Linked DNA regions of Homo sapiens: region 1 is linked to region 2. Evidence: fine-mapped expression QTL. Tissue or cell type: pancreas. Region 2 holds a variant in brackets; the other region holds the start of a gene. All regions are shown on one strand. Distances are between the middles of the regions.

Region 1 (8,107 bases), 31 kb after region 2:
TGGTGATTGTCAAGAGGGGAATATATTTGGAAGTTGAAAAAACAGTCAGGAACTTCCTCAATAGCCTGGCCCAACTGTCTCCACACTTTGATCCTATGTCCTCAACCTGTGTACATTAATTTATTTAGAGACTGTCTTATGTCCTAATATATGGTATGTGTGATAAGATATACAAAAAAAAAAGCATTTAAATGGGTGAGATAAAGATGAAAGATGACATAACACTACTTTTTAAGCTTTTATTTTGTTAACCATACCCAGGAAAACCCTTTTCACTGGAACAAATTTTTATGAAAACTAATATTTGTACTGAGGTTGTTATGTTTTATCATGTTTGTATTATTTTCATATTAAGCTTCTGCATTATGATATTTAGAAGACTAGTTTTAAGTTCAAATTATTTTGATATTTAGTTCTAATCACTTTCAGAATTGAAAAAAATGATACTTCACTAAAGTGCAGAAATCCAAATGGAAAAGGCACTAACTACATTGGCTGTGCTTGCTATAATAATAATTTTTCTATCTTACCAATTATGCAAATTGTGTCTAAATTCAGTTAGGAAATGTCATCTTCTCTGATGTCGATCAATTGTTCTTCCACATTTGCCATTGGCACTTTTATATTTTTAACAAGAGTTTGAAAACTCTTCATTTGGAAGATGTTTAATTAGGTGACGATGAGTGAAGTGTCAGTGCTACCATTTTCTTGCTGTTTCCATTACTAGTGTTATCTCCTTTCAGTAGTTCATTTTTGCAATAATCTTTTTTTAAGCCACACATCAATTTAGGGTTAATTTGGTGAAAACAAATCATCAATCCATTTAACCTGGTCCCAAAGCAAAGGATTGCAAGACCAAGCCCTCCATGTTGTAAAGCCCCCACTCCATCCTCAGGTTCACGTGGCTTGGCCCAGCTATACATGACCTTGGACAGTCTTCCTATCACACTGGTGAGCAGCCAGTATCCATGCACATAGTAAATATTAGTAAAGTACAATATCTCTCCCATTGTTTGAAGCCATAGAAGTTCTAATATTTTCTCCTATAATTCAAAGGCTCATCTTGCACAGAGCCATTCAGGCCTCTTTTTGGAGATGCCCATTTCTAAGATGAGGAGTTGCTGAGCCAGGCGTTGGGAGATAAGACAGAACAAGGTATCAAGAGTGAGGGTCCATCAGGTGTTGAGGGTGGGGGAAGAAGGAAGATGAGAGGGTTGAGATTGTCCTAGACGTTCCAGCTGGGATTGCAGGTGAGAAGGGTATTCAGTTCTGACAGGCAGTATTTCCTGGGAAGCACAGGTGCAAAAAGTAATCTTTTCCCACTACAGTGTCCCAGGCAAGGGGAAGACCCACAGGTTTTCTCTGTCCTCTGCTTTAGTTGAACTCTGTTTCACTGTACTCCCCACCATTATTGAATGGACTTGGGTAAGCGGCTGATTTGAAATTCAAAGACCTGGATTCCAGTCCATGCCGACTCCACCCCTTAATAGCTGGCTGACTAGCACAGCTTCCTCATCTGTAAAATAACAATTTTTTAAAAAGCCCTGCCTGCTTCACAGGATTATTATATGGCTCAAAGATAAAGCATATGCACAGCCAAAGGCTCTGAAAACTGCAAAGCACTATACAAATGTACGGTGTTATTATGACTTAGTATCCTGCATGCATTATGATTGAGGTACAAGGCAAGACATATCTATGTCCTCTTGCCTTTGTTTTTCCGGGACACTTAGGAGAGAGTATGACCATGTGGAGTAAGAGGTGGACACTGAGATCAGTATCCTGTGGGCAGTACATCTGAACATCCTGAACGTCCTAACACTGACCTTAGGCCTCCTGAGACCAGAGGTCACACTTGGAAATGAGGTGTGGTGCAGAGGTTGCTGGGGTTTCTGGATCCACGGAGCAAGAATGCCTGGGAATACTGGAGAAGAACCTAGTTTTCCTGGAAATTCCCCTCCCAGGCATTTCTTCACTTGATCTGAAGAAAATCTAAGAAGAAGCCAACACTAGAATGAAGCATTGTTTGAAAGTGGGAGATAAGACGCCTTATCATACCTACTTTCACTTAAGATCTGGCTTTCCCTGGCCACCAGGGGTAATCAGTCTCTTAACATATTTACTGGATGTCTACATAGAAGTACAATTCAAGCCCCTTGCAATGAAAATACTAACAATATGATTGGGAAGATTAAACACAGGATAGACAGATTGACAGATAATGGTGATGAAGATAGATAATAGATAGATATCTGGATGGAGGTTTGGATAGATAAGCACAAACTTGACAAGACACTACACCATCAGGAGAAAAAGAACAATTTGTTGAGCGTCTACAATGTGCCAGGTCAAGGTGCCAGGTGCTTTCAGATGTGTTACCACATCTGTCATTGCTGACTCCTTACAGCAATCCTGTAAGGAAGCATCAGCCCCATTGGTCAGATAAGAAATGGAGACCCAAAGAGGTTAAGCAACTTGTCCAGGACCATGCAGCTAGCCAGCCCATGTTCCTTCATCTAAGTCTCACTGTTCCTGGGTCAGAGGAAACCCTCCCACCCCCACCTCCCAGCTCTGAATTGTCTTTATTACTCTGGAGCCTTTGTTCTGTGTGAGAATATCTTAGGCTTTTTGAGAAAAGCCCCAGATCACTGTCTATTCATTGAGAACCTGAAACCGGCTCCTCAGCCATTCCTGCTCTAGCCACCAGCAAGGTTCCCAAGTGAAAGTGAGTCCTCTCAGGAGAAATGAAAGCGCTGTCTCTTTAGGTGCCCACTCCTTACCCACCAGCGGAGCAATGTTTTCCAGGCTGGCCAGGCTCCAGAAGCTCACTAAGGAAGTTGGCTTGGGGCCAAAGGCATCTATGGTTCATTGTACACTGTGGCCCTCCCCTTCCTGCCCCTCCATTTGCTCCCCTTCCTTTCTCTCTCTCCCTTCCCGGCTCCTAGACTGGGTCTAGGCAGGAGCTTCGCCATGATGTCAGGAGGGAAGGAGATGCCTCTGGGCCTCGTACCACAGCCTCAGCTCTCTCTCTGCCCCTCCATCTGAGTCCCTCCTGGCTCCCAGCTCCCTCAGGGTGCAAGGCCAAGCCTCCAAGGAATCCCTCCCCTTACCTGCATGGCTGGAGCCAAGAGTGAGTTTGGGGCCACTGGCTATGATGAGGGGATGACCCAGAGCTCAGTGAGCACTGTCGAAGCACTTCTGTTAGGAGGTTTGGTTGGCCAGGGAGGAAGAAGGCCTCCCTCTCTGGGATGCTCCTGAAAGGACTCTGTGGGAAGTTAAAGAATCCTCTGTGTGAGAGCAGGATGGGGGAAGGTGGAGGGTTGGAGAAATCCAGCCCAGTGTCTCTGTGTCTCCCCGCCTCCTCCTCCTGGGCCTCTATCCTCTGTGCTCTTGGCCTCTATGAGTCTTTTTGAAACTTCCCAGGCTGGAAAGCACTAGGTCCTGGGATATGAAAGTCTCTTTTAACATAGAATAGGCCTTCTGTTGATCCCAAAGATGCTCTTAAAATACACAACAAGAAATCGGAGTTTTACACACAGTCAGCTTCTCATTTTATAGATGGGAAGCTGAGGCCTAAGGAGGTGAAGTGGCCACTATAGCCATTCCATTGCACCAGGGTGGAGGGCTGTCCACCAAATTCAGAGCCCGGCATAGTGGGTGGGGGTCACCCACTTTATCTGACTCTCATGGGTCCTTGATCTCAGGGGTCTTTTCTGGCAGAGGTCTGGGAGCATGACTGAGACATGATCTCAGAATCAAACCCCTGGAGGCAGTAGCTATAGCAGGAGCTGACGATCTCCAGAAACTCAGGACCAGACGATCTCCAGACACTCAGGACAAGTCAGTGTCCCCACCAAGGATGGGGCTTTGAGAGGCTCCGCCCACCTCTGTTTCTGCACAGCAGGTTTAGCAGCTCCATTCTTCCCCAGAGAGCCACTCCATCTGAGGGTGGCTGCGTGTCCACATACGAGGGGACAGGGCTGAGGATGAGGAGAACCCTGGGGACCCAGAAGACCGTGCCTTGCCTGGAAGTCCTGCCTGTAGGCCTGAAGGACTTGCCCTAACAGAGCCTCAACAACTACCTGGTAAGGAAACTGCTGGCCCCTCCAGGTGTCTGGAGAGAGGGGAGGGAGGGAGATCCAAATACAAGCCCTGCTGGGACCGAGGGAGGGGGCAGGCCTGGACTCTGCTGAACACCTAATGAGCATCAGGGAGCGCCACTGCAGGACGAGCAGCAGAGCCAAGATTAGAGCCCCTGCTGTCCTCACTACAGCCACAGTCATTCACCCCTGTGCAGCAGCTGGCCAAGACCAGCAGACACAGGGCACGCGCCGCACCACTTTATCTTCTGGGATTTTCTTAAGCGGGACCCATGGCAATAATGCCTTTCCTCACCTTAACCTAATTCGGGCTCTACTCCTGCTTTCCAACAAATGATTCTGTCTATGCTGAAGTGATAAGGATAGGAAAACTGTGCCTGCATAGGAAGGAAGCTGGAGGTGACAAGTTGGGGTTGGGGGTCACTGTATTTACATGGTAGAAATTCTGGGAATAGAGTAGAAACGGTAGTAGAAACTTGCACATATTGGAATTATTTCTGCTTCCAGCCTGGGAAGTTTTCAAAAGAGACATAGAGGCCAAGAGCACGGAGTATAGAAGCCCAGTAGGCCAAGCCAGGAAGAGGCGGGGGAGACTGGGAGACATTAGGCTGGATTTCTGGTTTAGAAAAAGGTGCCATCAGCTCCCTATGTGACCTTAATGCCCTGTGCCTGACCCTGTACTTCCTGAGGTGGTGCCAGTTAGCTCACACTCTGAGTGGCACCTGGGGTGTATATAGAAATAGAAAGAGCTTGAGATTTGGGTTCTATTAGTCATAGTGGAATCACTGAATTCCCATGGAAGACACGGAAGGCAGAGGAGAATGAAAACTAATGTTTATTGAATGCTTTCTATTCCCATTTGTCAGATGGGAAAACTGAGACTCTGAGAGGTTAAATGACTCGGGTGTATCAGGATCCAGAGCTCAAGGTCTCCTCTACAAGTGGAGGTAGGAGCTTGGCCAGAGATGCCCTCGGGGCAGGATAATGCATAGGCTGCCCCTACTCAGGAGCCTCCTAGGGCCTCCTGAGCACCATGTCCCTGCAGATGCAGAAGGCTAGGTGGTTCCAGTCAACATCTGTGTTGCAGCTTTGGGGACAACCCTTAGGACACTGCTCTCTGGTGGCTCAGTACCTCTCCACTAAATTCCATCCCCCAGCACCTGTACCAGAACTGGTGGCCTGAGCCTCCATTGAGGCTGGCCGACACATAAATAGCCACTTAACGATTGGCTCGTCTACCACAGGGAGTGATGGCATCAGCTGCACTTGTCACTTGGGATGTGCTGCGGATGCAACACTCCATCCCCCAGATGGGTTTGGTATAAAAAGGACAAGATTCAAGTGGAATCCAGTTCAGCTTGGGGGTGCTGAAGGCCCTCCTCCTAAATGCAGGGCAAAGAAAAGGGACTTGGAAAACAGATTTAAATCATGCCACTTAACTGTGTGACCTCAGCCAAATCCCCTTGCAAATCTAAGATTTGACTCTAAAAATTAACACCTTCTGGGCCAGCAGCCATGAGAATTAAATGAAATTAAGCACCAGACATGGCTTCTAACAATTCATGGGCATTTAGAAGCCTTTTTCTTCTCTTTTCTTCCCTTATAAAATGAGACGTGTTTAGCAACTTAACCAAGCAAACACGGTAGGATGGGATTACATTTCTGGCTCTAGCCTGGGTGAAGCTTCTCAGATCATGAGACTCCTTAGAGGAGGCTGAGAGGCCCAGGGCCAAATGTTACATCTTCCTAACAGAAGTTTGGCCACTGGGAAAGCACTATTCAAGAGGAGTCTTGGAACTGAAGACTGGATGGTTCCCCAAATCACTTGATCGAGGGCCATTTCCTATAGGAGGAGGAGGAAATGAGGAATATGCCAAAGTGGAACCATGTTCCTTCAGGCCAGACCAGGAGAAAGACACAGACAGCCAAGGGCTGGTGGGAAGAGGCTGATAAGCATGTGGGAGAGAGGCCGTGGGCAAGCCTGCACATCTCTGTCCAACATTTGGAGGGCCCCCACTCTCCTTTGTCCACCTGGCAAATGCAACTCACTCTTCAAGAATCAAATGACCTTTTCTGTGACTTCCCTTTTGACATTGCCCCATCCTCCCTGCTCTTTTGCATACCAAATATCCCCTGTCCTCTGCTCCTATTAGAGGATGCTGTAGGGAATGTTCATTCACCAGTCACACATGTCTCTTCCTCACTAGATGGGTGGGTGCTCTGGTGGTGCTTTTCACATGCCTGGTTCACAGGAGAAGCTCAATAAACCTGTGGAAAATTGAATGAGGCAATGGAGGGCATGGGAGCTGCTCCATGGACCCCCTTAAACTCAATGCTTGGACAGGGAAAGGACAGGGATTGGGGAGATGGACTAAAGGAAGAGAATGTGAATATGATCGTTGGTAGATTTATAATGTTGATTTTATAACTGGTATTTTCAATGAGTGAGAACAAAAAAGCTAACATAACAGAGAGCAGAATGATAAGAATTTACCTGTGTGCAAAACTGTTCTTCACTGATTTTGTAACGTAAAAACTTTGGAAATAACAGCATTCACAGTAGAAGATGTGTTCTAGAAATGTTGGTACATTCAGACCATGAGACACCTTGCAGCCATTAGAGAGAATAAGGCGGATTATAGGAACTGACATGGAAGGTGTCACTGATACTGCAAAACAGCATGTTTCATGGTGCACTCATTAAGAGGAGTTGGGTCAGCTTGCTTAGATGTACTTTTCTGCCCCTCATGTACTACTTAGCCTTGGAAATATTCCTTATCCTCTCTAATCCTCAGTATTCTCACCTGTAAAATGGGGAGAATGGTAGTCCCTACTTCAAAGAGTTGTGAGGATTCTAGATATGCGTGGCACAGTTGTAAGCATGCATTAAGTGTTCAATAAATGTTTGCTATAATTAAGTTAAAAAAGTAAGCCGCAAAAAGCATGCTATTGCCCCAATTTTGCTTTTTAATTTTTTTGATATAGAGATATATATGTATGTAAATATATATGTGTATCTGTGGATAAAACAACTGTTATCGGTAGTTATTTCTGAAGTATGAGACAAAAGAGAAGAAATGGGGGGGGACTTTTTTGTTTTTGTTATGTTTTTTTAAATAGACTTCTTTTTTAGAGCAATTTTGGGTCATAGCAAAATTGAGCCTTCCCTACACATAAAACCTTCTTTACTGTCAACATCCCGCATCAGAGGGACACATTTGTTTTCATTGATGAATCCATATTGACACATCATTGGGACTTATACTTTTAACTTCTGACTTGTTGCCATTTCAACAGTGAGCGAGTATTGGTTTTGAAAGTAAAATAACATTAATGAGTGGCTGAATCATGCCCTAAGCTCCAGAATGGCCAGATTCTAGAAAGTGGCTTGTTTCACAGAAGTTGCCACAGAGAAGGTAATCAACCCAGGGCTGCCTGAGAATGGGGCCTGAGCCTGAGCACCCCCATTCTGCTGTCACCAGCATGACAGGTCACAGGCTGGCCTGCCTGGCTACCCCCTGCTCCCTCAGAGGGACGCCTGACAGCAGCTCCTGAAGCTGAGGAGGCCGGGCCCCTGGGCCATGCCCCACGGATGGTCCTCACATACACACCAGCTGGAAGGCTTCAGGAAACACAGGGACAAGGTCTAGGAGGTCACGACAGCAGCAAGGATCCTCGGGTCAACTAAGGCCCAGGCCCCAGCCTGCTCTGAAGGAAGAGAGTACCGGGGGGGAGGCAGCCAGCCCTGGATTCAAAGTCTCCCCTGGCACTCACTAGCATGGTGTCCTTCCCATGCACCTGTTTCCTTGTCGTAATAATATAGGGATTAACCCGCCCACCACACAAGGCCACTGTGAGGATGGAGTGAGCTCTGTGGGACAGCACCTAACTCATGACCTCCTGACACTGGAGGCTCTCAGGTTTTTGTTTCCTGTCTACATGACTGACCCCACAAGCCTAGACCTGGGGATAAATAAAAGAATGTCTGGCTTGGTCAAGGTGAGTGT
Region 2 (8,107 bases):
ATATACCTAAAGGAAAGTAGTTTCAGGCCGGGCGTGGTGGCTCATGCCTGTAATCTCAGCACTTTGGGAGGCCAAGGCCAGTGGATCCCTCGAGGCCAGGAGTTCAAGACCAGCCTGGCCAACATGGTGAAACTCCGTCTCTACTAAAAATACAAAAATTAGCTGGATGTGGTGGCAGGCACCTATAATCCCAGCTACTCAGGGGTGTTTCACATGAGAATTACTTATACCTGGAGGTGGAGGTTGCAGTGAGCCAAGATTGTGCCATTGCACTCCAGACTGGGAGACAGAGCGATACTCTGTCTCAAAAAAAAAAAATGAAAAAAGAAAGAAAAGAAAAGTAGTTTTAGCCAAAGGAGGTATTTCTCTTGCACTGTAAGCCAATTTCAGCCAGGCCACCAAAATTGCCTCCCTCAGAAGCAAATATCTGCAGAAGATCCAAGAAAATTTGCTCAAGGGTTAGCTCCCACCTTTGCTCCAAGAGACACTGGCTCCACTGCTGAATGAACAAATTGTGCAGCTCAGCCTACGTTAGGCTGTATGCTCACATCTCCTCCTCTGGATCTTGGTTCCCCGGCAGATGAGTGCAACTAGGCCCTGGGGTCCTTCCCAGCTGCAGCATTCTAGGATGAGGACGGAGCACTGGCCTCTGTCTGTGGCCTCAGAGGCAGCCAGCTGCCTCTCCTCCCTCCCTCCCCGAGCCACGTCTTTTTTTGCCACCCACTCTGTTGTGTCCTGGGTGTGTGAAGGGGCTGCGCTTAGCTGCGTCTTCTTTTGTCTGGAGATGACAGTCCACAGACCAGGAAGGAAGGGTGGGAATGACGGTTTGCAGAGGGAAGGCGAGGGGAGCTATTTCCACCTACTTTGGCCTGGTAATTGATGAGCACGTGGGGAGGTTTCCGCATTTCAATAAGAGGTTGCTTTCGCCTTCCTCTGCCTTCCTCCAGAAGAAGCGCCCCTGACCCGGTGGAACCAAACACAGAGGCTTTCTTTCCAGTGCCATTCTCTGACATCAGCCCTACTCCAGAGAGCTCCCCAGGGAGGGGTCTGAGTCTCCACCTTCCTCTGAATCCCTCTGCCCCCCAGATTTCATTCCCCACTCACAGGAGCAGCTTGCTCTTGATAACTGCGGTGTCAGCCGCCTAACTCCTCTCTTCATGTCTCGGGGATGAGCTGACTTGGGCTGCCTTCCTGGACTGCCCCATGCTGCACGTCTCCTGGGATTTCCATAGCCGAAGTATCTCCCACTTACCACATGGGCCAGCTCCCTGTCTTCCAAGCTTCCATTTCTACAGCCTCAGTTACTGGAGGCTTTTGTCTACCCAAGCCTGGGGAACTGCTATTCATGAAAATGGCAGTATTCATTGTTTTTGAAGATGTCTAAGTCCCAGAAAACATAAGAAGGTTCGAGATGGCTTTTAATATGAAGGAGAGCGGTCTTCATTTTTTTTCTGGTGAAAGGAACACTTTTTAATGAAAACTCAAGTTAATGTTAAATGACAAATGTCATAGAGCCAGCCACGAGTCTTTCTAACTTTGTTGTGGCCATAAATGACAGACATGTGCAATCAAGTCCCCAGGTCAACAGAGGGACAGATTGCTGGCAGAACCACCCTCAGCAGGTTAATAAGTTGACCTGAAAGCTGCCAGGGCAGTTTGGAACGTTTGCGATGAGGAACTTGTATTTAGTTTTTATAAGTTGTCACATAATCGCTTAGGGCGGCTCTTAAAATATGTCCAAACAAGGAGACAGTGAATAGGTCTGGAATAACAGTCCCCCTTCTGTTTCAGAACTGACAGTTTCAGCCAATAGGGAGAGGTGAATGGTAATGAGGGAAGAATGGGCTTTTTAGACACACCTGGTATTGAACCCTGACTCATGATGTGCTAACTGAGACTGGGCAAGGTGTCTCAGCTGCCTTATCCGGCTTCCTCCTTGGCCGTAGAGTCAAAACACATCCTTTGCCCCATCCTTTGAGGGTTCTCACCAAGGGAAGGGAATAAACACAGGGCAAACACCTAGGAGGCTGACACCCAACAGGCATCGAGAAATGTTCATTTTCTTCCTCCCTCCTACCGTCACCCTAGCTCTAGCTCTCATATCTAGGAACTAGAACAGCTGTCTACCCCCTCTCCCAGGCTTTGCCCAGAGCCCAGATGGTTTCTAGGCAGACCCATAGGATTTAAGGTCTTGCTAACAATTAAAAGCCATGAATCTCTTCCCCTCTTCCCTGCTCTGTTCTGAGTCCTGTGTGTCTATAGCTCATCTCATCTTCCCCATAGCCCTGAAGTAGATAGGAAAGATGATCATGTCCACAACTCAGAAAGGGTGAAATTAAGGCAGAGAGGTGAAGACACTTGCCCCATGTCACCAGTGGAGTGAGCTGATGATGGAGCCAGCACTTGAACCCAAACCATCCATCTAGGTCCAAAGCACACTAGTAGCACCATGCTACTACTCTGCCTCCTGAGCCACAAGACAGTAAGGATTAGATGTCCATGCTCAAGCATTGTAAGCAAAAGTAGCTAAGTAGAGAGGGTGAGGAGTCCAACAGGCTCAAGAAGGAGAGCAGATGCCAGCTGTGCTCGCTCAGAAATCGGAAACGCAGCTTGCAGCCTTTAGTGATAGAGCTGTACGCTTGAGGGGCTTCTTCCCAGAGAGAGGTCTGGGAGTCAGAAACACAGAGTGCAGTGTCCCCTGCTGAGTCAAACAGAGGCCAGACCAGGGGACACATCAGAGAAACGGCCCAGGAAAGGCTGGGACAGGCTCAGGACTCGCCCAGAGGTACTGCGCCCTGAGTAAACCTGTTTATTCTTTCAGAATAAGCTGGTGTCGGATGGAAAGGTCAATATTATTTAGTATTATTATTAGTTATTCTGGAATAACTACTTATATTTCTTATGTATTTTCCAGGTATTTCACATGCATTCTCTCATTTAAGACCCACGGCAACTCAGCAACATATTATCCCCTTTTACAGATGAGAAAGGGCTCATTGAGGCAAAGGGATTTATTTATTCAAGTTTACATGGCTGCCTGTGGCAGGGTTGGGTGAACCAGGGCTGCTCTGCCTCTGTGCCTGCTATGCCAAGTGAGAATAGGGTACTCATCCCAGGATCATCTTTGCAGGCATCCAGCTGTTTCCCGTGCCCACCTGCCCCCTCATTAGGTTCTGTAAGATCACCGTCCTGACCCCCAGGAGCACACTCACCCATGGGGTCAGGCTGCTATTAGAAATTCCTTCCAGAGATGCCAGGTGAGAGGGAGGCAGGCAGACAGACATCTGTGGGGGTCACATTCACCCCAGACAGTTCATTGCCGGAAGGAAGCCACATGCCTCACGTCGAAGCTCATCTGATTGGAGTCAGACACAGCCAGATACAGTCATGATTGTGTCCAGAGGCCCACGGGGGCTGGCGGGGCCCTTCACGACAGCTGCTACGGCACAGCCCATCTGGAAGGGCTCTTTTTGTTCAACGCTTTAACCCTCTGAGGACCCTCGGGACCAAGGGATGCCACACCCTGGGTGAGAGAGATACTCAAGGAGGAGGGTCCCTCTACAGAGGATGAGTTAGGACACCCGGGACGGGCCCACATTTTCCTCCCCACTCTGCTTCCCAGGTAGATTGAGGGTAGGAGGAGGCCCACATTCCACAGAGGAGAGACTGTGAGCCTCTTGAGTTTTAAGAATCTGTGAAGGAACACCCCCAAACACCTACCATGCACCCCCAAGCAAGTAAAGGGGCTCCCTGAGTTCCAGCAGCTTGAGTAAAGGCCCAGAAAGTGACCCTGTGAGGCTCATGGAGAAGGGAATGTTGAGGGCCCAGCCTGCACTGGGTGGGCAGCGCCCTGCCCCAACTTCCCGCAGGTTCCCAGGAAATGAACAAAAGGCTCCCTCAGCTCACTCGTTGGCAGATGTCTCTGACCTGAGGCCATTCAT[C/G]AACTCTCACTCAGGCACTCAGCCCCCCAGACAGCCTGGAGGTGTTGGCAGCACACCAGAGAGACTTTCAGCCAAAGACAGGTCTGGTTTCCCTGAAGAAAAAGAAACCTGAACTGGCTGCCTTCCCAGAGCGTCTGCTTGGGGGACCCACCCAAGTAAACAAAGCTGTTAAATGGGGGCATGTGGGCCAAAGCCCGCTGCACTAGAAGCTCCCGCTGCAGCAGTGCTGCCCTGCCCCAGGCACCACTCTAGCAAGAGAGAGCCTCTCACCACCGTGGGGCCTGACCCTGCTGCTGACCAGCCTCTGCTACCCACAGCCTGGACCCTCTCTCCACCTGGAGCCCCTCTCCTTCCTGCCTCCCTCTGATTCATGCCCGGTGGGTAGGAGTCCTACTTCCTCTCCTCTTCCCTGAACACAGTAACAGTGGGTGTGCTCCTGAAGGTGACGTGAGGGCAACAAGACTGACTGACCTTCCTCGTCCACCTAGGGAGCTCATACAGACCCATCACATCCACCCCCTGCCACCTCTGCAAGCTTGGACAGGAGGTGAGCTCCTCCGAGCTGCAGCTTCCTCATCTGTAAACTGGGAATAACAGGATCTCTATCAAAGATGATGGTGACTATTCAGAACAGACAAAGCCACAGAGACAGAAACAGATGAATGGTTTCCAGGGCTGGGGCAGGAGGAATGTGGAGTACCTGCTTCATGGGTACAGGGTTTCTGGTTTGGGGTGATGAAAATGTTCTCACACAAGATCATGGTGATGGTTGCACAACCTCATGAATGGACTTAATGCCACTGAATTGTACACTTTAATATGATTTCAATGGTAAATTTTATGTTATGTGTATTTTGCCACAACAAAAAAAAGTTCCTATGAGATTAAATGAAATGAAGTTTGTAGAAATGATTGCACCACCGGGTACATTATAGATCCTCAACAGATTTTAATGTCCTTGCTTCCCTGAGATCATCACATTGAAATGTAGACAATATACCCTGCTCTACCCCACATGCCTCCCCAGGGTGGACTATTTTTCTATTTAGATACTTGCTCCAACATGCTAATAGGATGAATCCATGTTTTTCATAAAGTAAAGCATTTGATTCACCAGTAGGAGAGAGAGTATCCAATGCTGCCACCCCTGTTCCCTCTTCTGGACTTACCTGTTTCACTGGCCTGGTCTAGGGTAACCAACACCAGGATTGAGTCCTACCAGAGGAAGGTAAAAGGCTCTCTGGGTACCCAGGCTAGGGACTTCTCTCAGTATCTGTTTCTCACTGTTTCCAAAACACTGTCATCCTAAAAAATAAAGCCTCTCATTGTTGGGAAGCATTTTTCCAAGAGTCTTTTGTGTTTCTGCACGTCTTCTGAGCAGAGACACTGCTTTGGTTACAATCTTTTCAAGAATGTTTGCAAAGCAAATAGCCTCAGAAGATATAGTGTCTCCCTTCAATGTAAAGAGCAGGTAGGCTTACTCTCCATTATGAAATATCTGGGTTCCCTAGGCTTAGGGCTCCTCTCCCATAACGCAACCCACAGCAGGTACAGATGACACCTGGCCCTCTTTGTGCCACCCCATGGGAATAAGGGTTTGGGGAACTGGAACAAAAAATGCATTGAACATAGCAAGGCTCAACTAGTATTTATAATCATTATTAATTGCCTTTCTTCCCTACTATGCTTTAAGCTCCTTAAGGGTAACCAGTATGTTTTTATTTATCTTTGTATTTCACAGAATGGATACTGATAAATATTTGCTGGCTGGCTGGATGGATGGATGGGTGGATGGATGGGTGGGTGAATGGATGAATGGATGGATGGATGGATGGATGGATGGATGGATGAGTGGACGGATGGATGGATGGATGGATGGATGGATGGATGGATGGATGGATACATGGAGGAATGGGTGGGTGGATGGATGGGTGGGTGGATGGGTGGATGGATGGATGGGTGGATGGATAGGTGGATGGGTGAGTGGGTGGGTGGGTGGATGGATGGATGGATGGACGGGTGGGTGAATGGATGGATGGATGGATGCATGAGTGGATGGATGGATGGATGGATGGATGGATGGATGGATGGATGGATGGATACATGGAGGAATGGGTGGGTGGATGGATGGGTGGGTGGATGGGTGGATGGATGGATGGGTGGATGGATAGGTGGATGGGTGAGTGGATGGGTGGGTGGATGGGTGGATGGGTGGATGGATAAGTGGATGGGTGAGTGGGTGGGTGGGTGGATGGATGGATGGATGGACGGGTGGGTGAATGGATGGATGGATGGATGGATGGATGGATGGATGGATGCATGAGTGGATGGATGGATGGATGGATGGATGGGCGGATGGAAGGATGGATGGATGGATGGATGGATGGATAGATGAATGGATGGATTGGTGGATGGATGGATGGATGGATTGTTGGATGGATGAATGGATGGATGGGTGGATGCATGGATGAGTGGATGGATAGATGAATGGGTGGATGGATGGAAAGATGAGTGGGTGGGTGGGTGGGTGGGTGGATGGATGGATGGATGGACAGACAGGTGGATAGGTGGATGGATGAGTGGGTAGATGGAATGATGGATGGATCGATGGATGGATGGATGGGTGGATGGATGGGTGGGTGAATGGATGAATGGATGGATGGATGGATAGATGGATGGATGGATGGATGGATGGAGAGATGTTTCTCTTGTGTCATCCTGGCAGTTTTATCTGACACTTCCCCTCTCATTCTTACAGCTTTTCTAGCTCCTGACACCATACCCAGTATTTTAACCACTTACCTTGCCAGCTATTTTCCTGGCTCAAACCATGTGATGTAGATAATAAGAGTCAAGTACTCTGCATGGGGCCTTGGATTTGGATGTTGGGGAGCATCCTGGATCCTTGCCTAGGTCTGGACATCTCTCCTGTCCTGCCCTCCCAGCTTTGTCCTAGCATCGGCTCCACTCCCAACTTCAGGACCTCATGGTGATGTGCAGTTCTAATATACCTAACAAGATATCAGTCCAGGCTACCAAACCACATGTTGGTCACCCCTGAACCAGCTAAACAAGATGTTTGCTTCTCACATTTGCTCCTGTTAGGCTAAAAGGGGTCATAGTGCTGGGCACATAGCAGGTACTTGGTTAATATTTATTTCATGAATGGATGAATAAGCCTTAAATTCATCGCCTCCTTCTTACATTATTAAAGTCAGCCTCCTGGGCAATAAGACCTAAAAATACAACCAAAAGGAGGGAAACTGGAGATATCGCCACAGACATTCCTTTTGGTTCGGCATCCACATGGCAAACACAATCTCCAGAACGGTGCAGTGATGGCATTGGATGTGCCAGCCAGTCTTCCCTGTGGTAAGAACCCCCGCCTTTGTGCACAGCTTCCTCACAGATCATATACGATGTATAAGGTGATTACAAAGGTATACCTGCTCTATATGCACTTGCAATTGCAAAACAGCTACTCCCCTTTTCCACAGCCACACAGGAAGTTTGGCCAATTGGCATCTTGCCAAGAAAAGCCTGGCAGTGAATAGCTATTTAATGTAAAGGCTCTGGGGCCCATTTTTCAGATGGCTGAGAGAACGGAATGTCCAGCAGGCAAATTGAAGTGCCGAATCTGTGGTGCTGGGGTCCCGGATTCATCAGCAATAGGGACACTGGGTATATTTAACTGGGTATGATCCACCAGTGGATGCCTAGTATTCACTGATGTATTTGTTTGCTTGTTTATACCTCCTTTCACTCCAGAAGAGATTTGTGTAATTCGATAAGTTCACATAAAGTGGAACGAAACAGGATTGGTTATAAAACACAAAACTGCATATCATGTGTTCTCTTGACTAAGTTCAAGAGAGTACAGAGCTGTTGCCAGGCCAGGCAGAAGGCCTAGGTGTGGCTGCTGTGTTCCAGGACCTGCCCTCCAGCATGCCAAGCCCAGGGACTTGATTTTGCCAGTGCTCTGAGAGTTATCCAGCCTTAGAGAGAACCAGCTCATACAACCCAAGTCACAAGAGGCTCTTATACAAACCACAATTAACTCCACTTGACAAATGTATTCTAAGAATTAGATCACAAGAAGGACAAGAACAGCAACAAGAAGAGGAAAAAGAACAAGAAGTGGGGGAAGGAAGAAGAATAAAAGAAAA

Which allele goes with the higher level. Alleles are on the strand shown, and positions count from the first base shown. SD is a standard deviation of normalised expression in the study named.
As copies of G replace C in region 2, the expression in pancreas of the gene that starts at base 3,936 in region 1 goes down (small effect, 0.37 SD a copy in GTEx).

What was found. PIP is the estimated chance that this variant, and not a neighbour inherited with it, causes the effect.
Region 1: GABRP starts here. The variant in region 2 is fine-mapped to the expression of GABRP in pancreas (GTEx, PIP above 0.99).

What each region holds. Positions count from the first base shown.
Region 1 is chr5:170,779,790-170,787,896 of GRCh38, forward strand. GABRP (gamma-aminobutyric acid type A receptor subunit pi) reads left to right here and starts at 3,936. Exons shown (of 10, transcript NM_014211.3): 1 at 3,936-4,085. It overlaps LOC107986475 (a long non-coding RNA gene), which reads right to left and starts at 3,267. Exons shown (of 2, transcript XR_001742978.3): 1 at 1-3,267.
Region 2 is chr5:170,748,403-170,756,509 of GRCh38, forward strand. The region is part of intron 1 of LOC107986473 (a long non-coding RNA gene); the gene reads right to left. LOC107986474 (a long non-coding RNA gene) reads right to left here and starts at 4,004. Exons shown (of 2, transcript XR_001742977.2): 1 at 3,721-4,004; 2 at 2,997-3,355. RefSeq lists enhancers at 669-1,426, 2,810-3,694, 3,695-4,579. The variant C/G (reference allele first, on the strand shown) is at 3,942.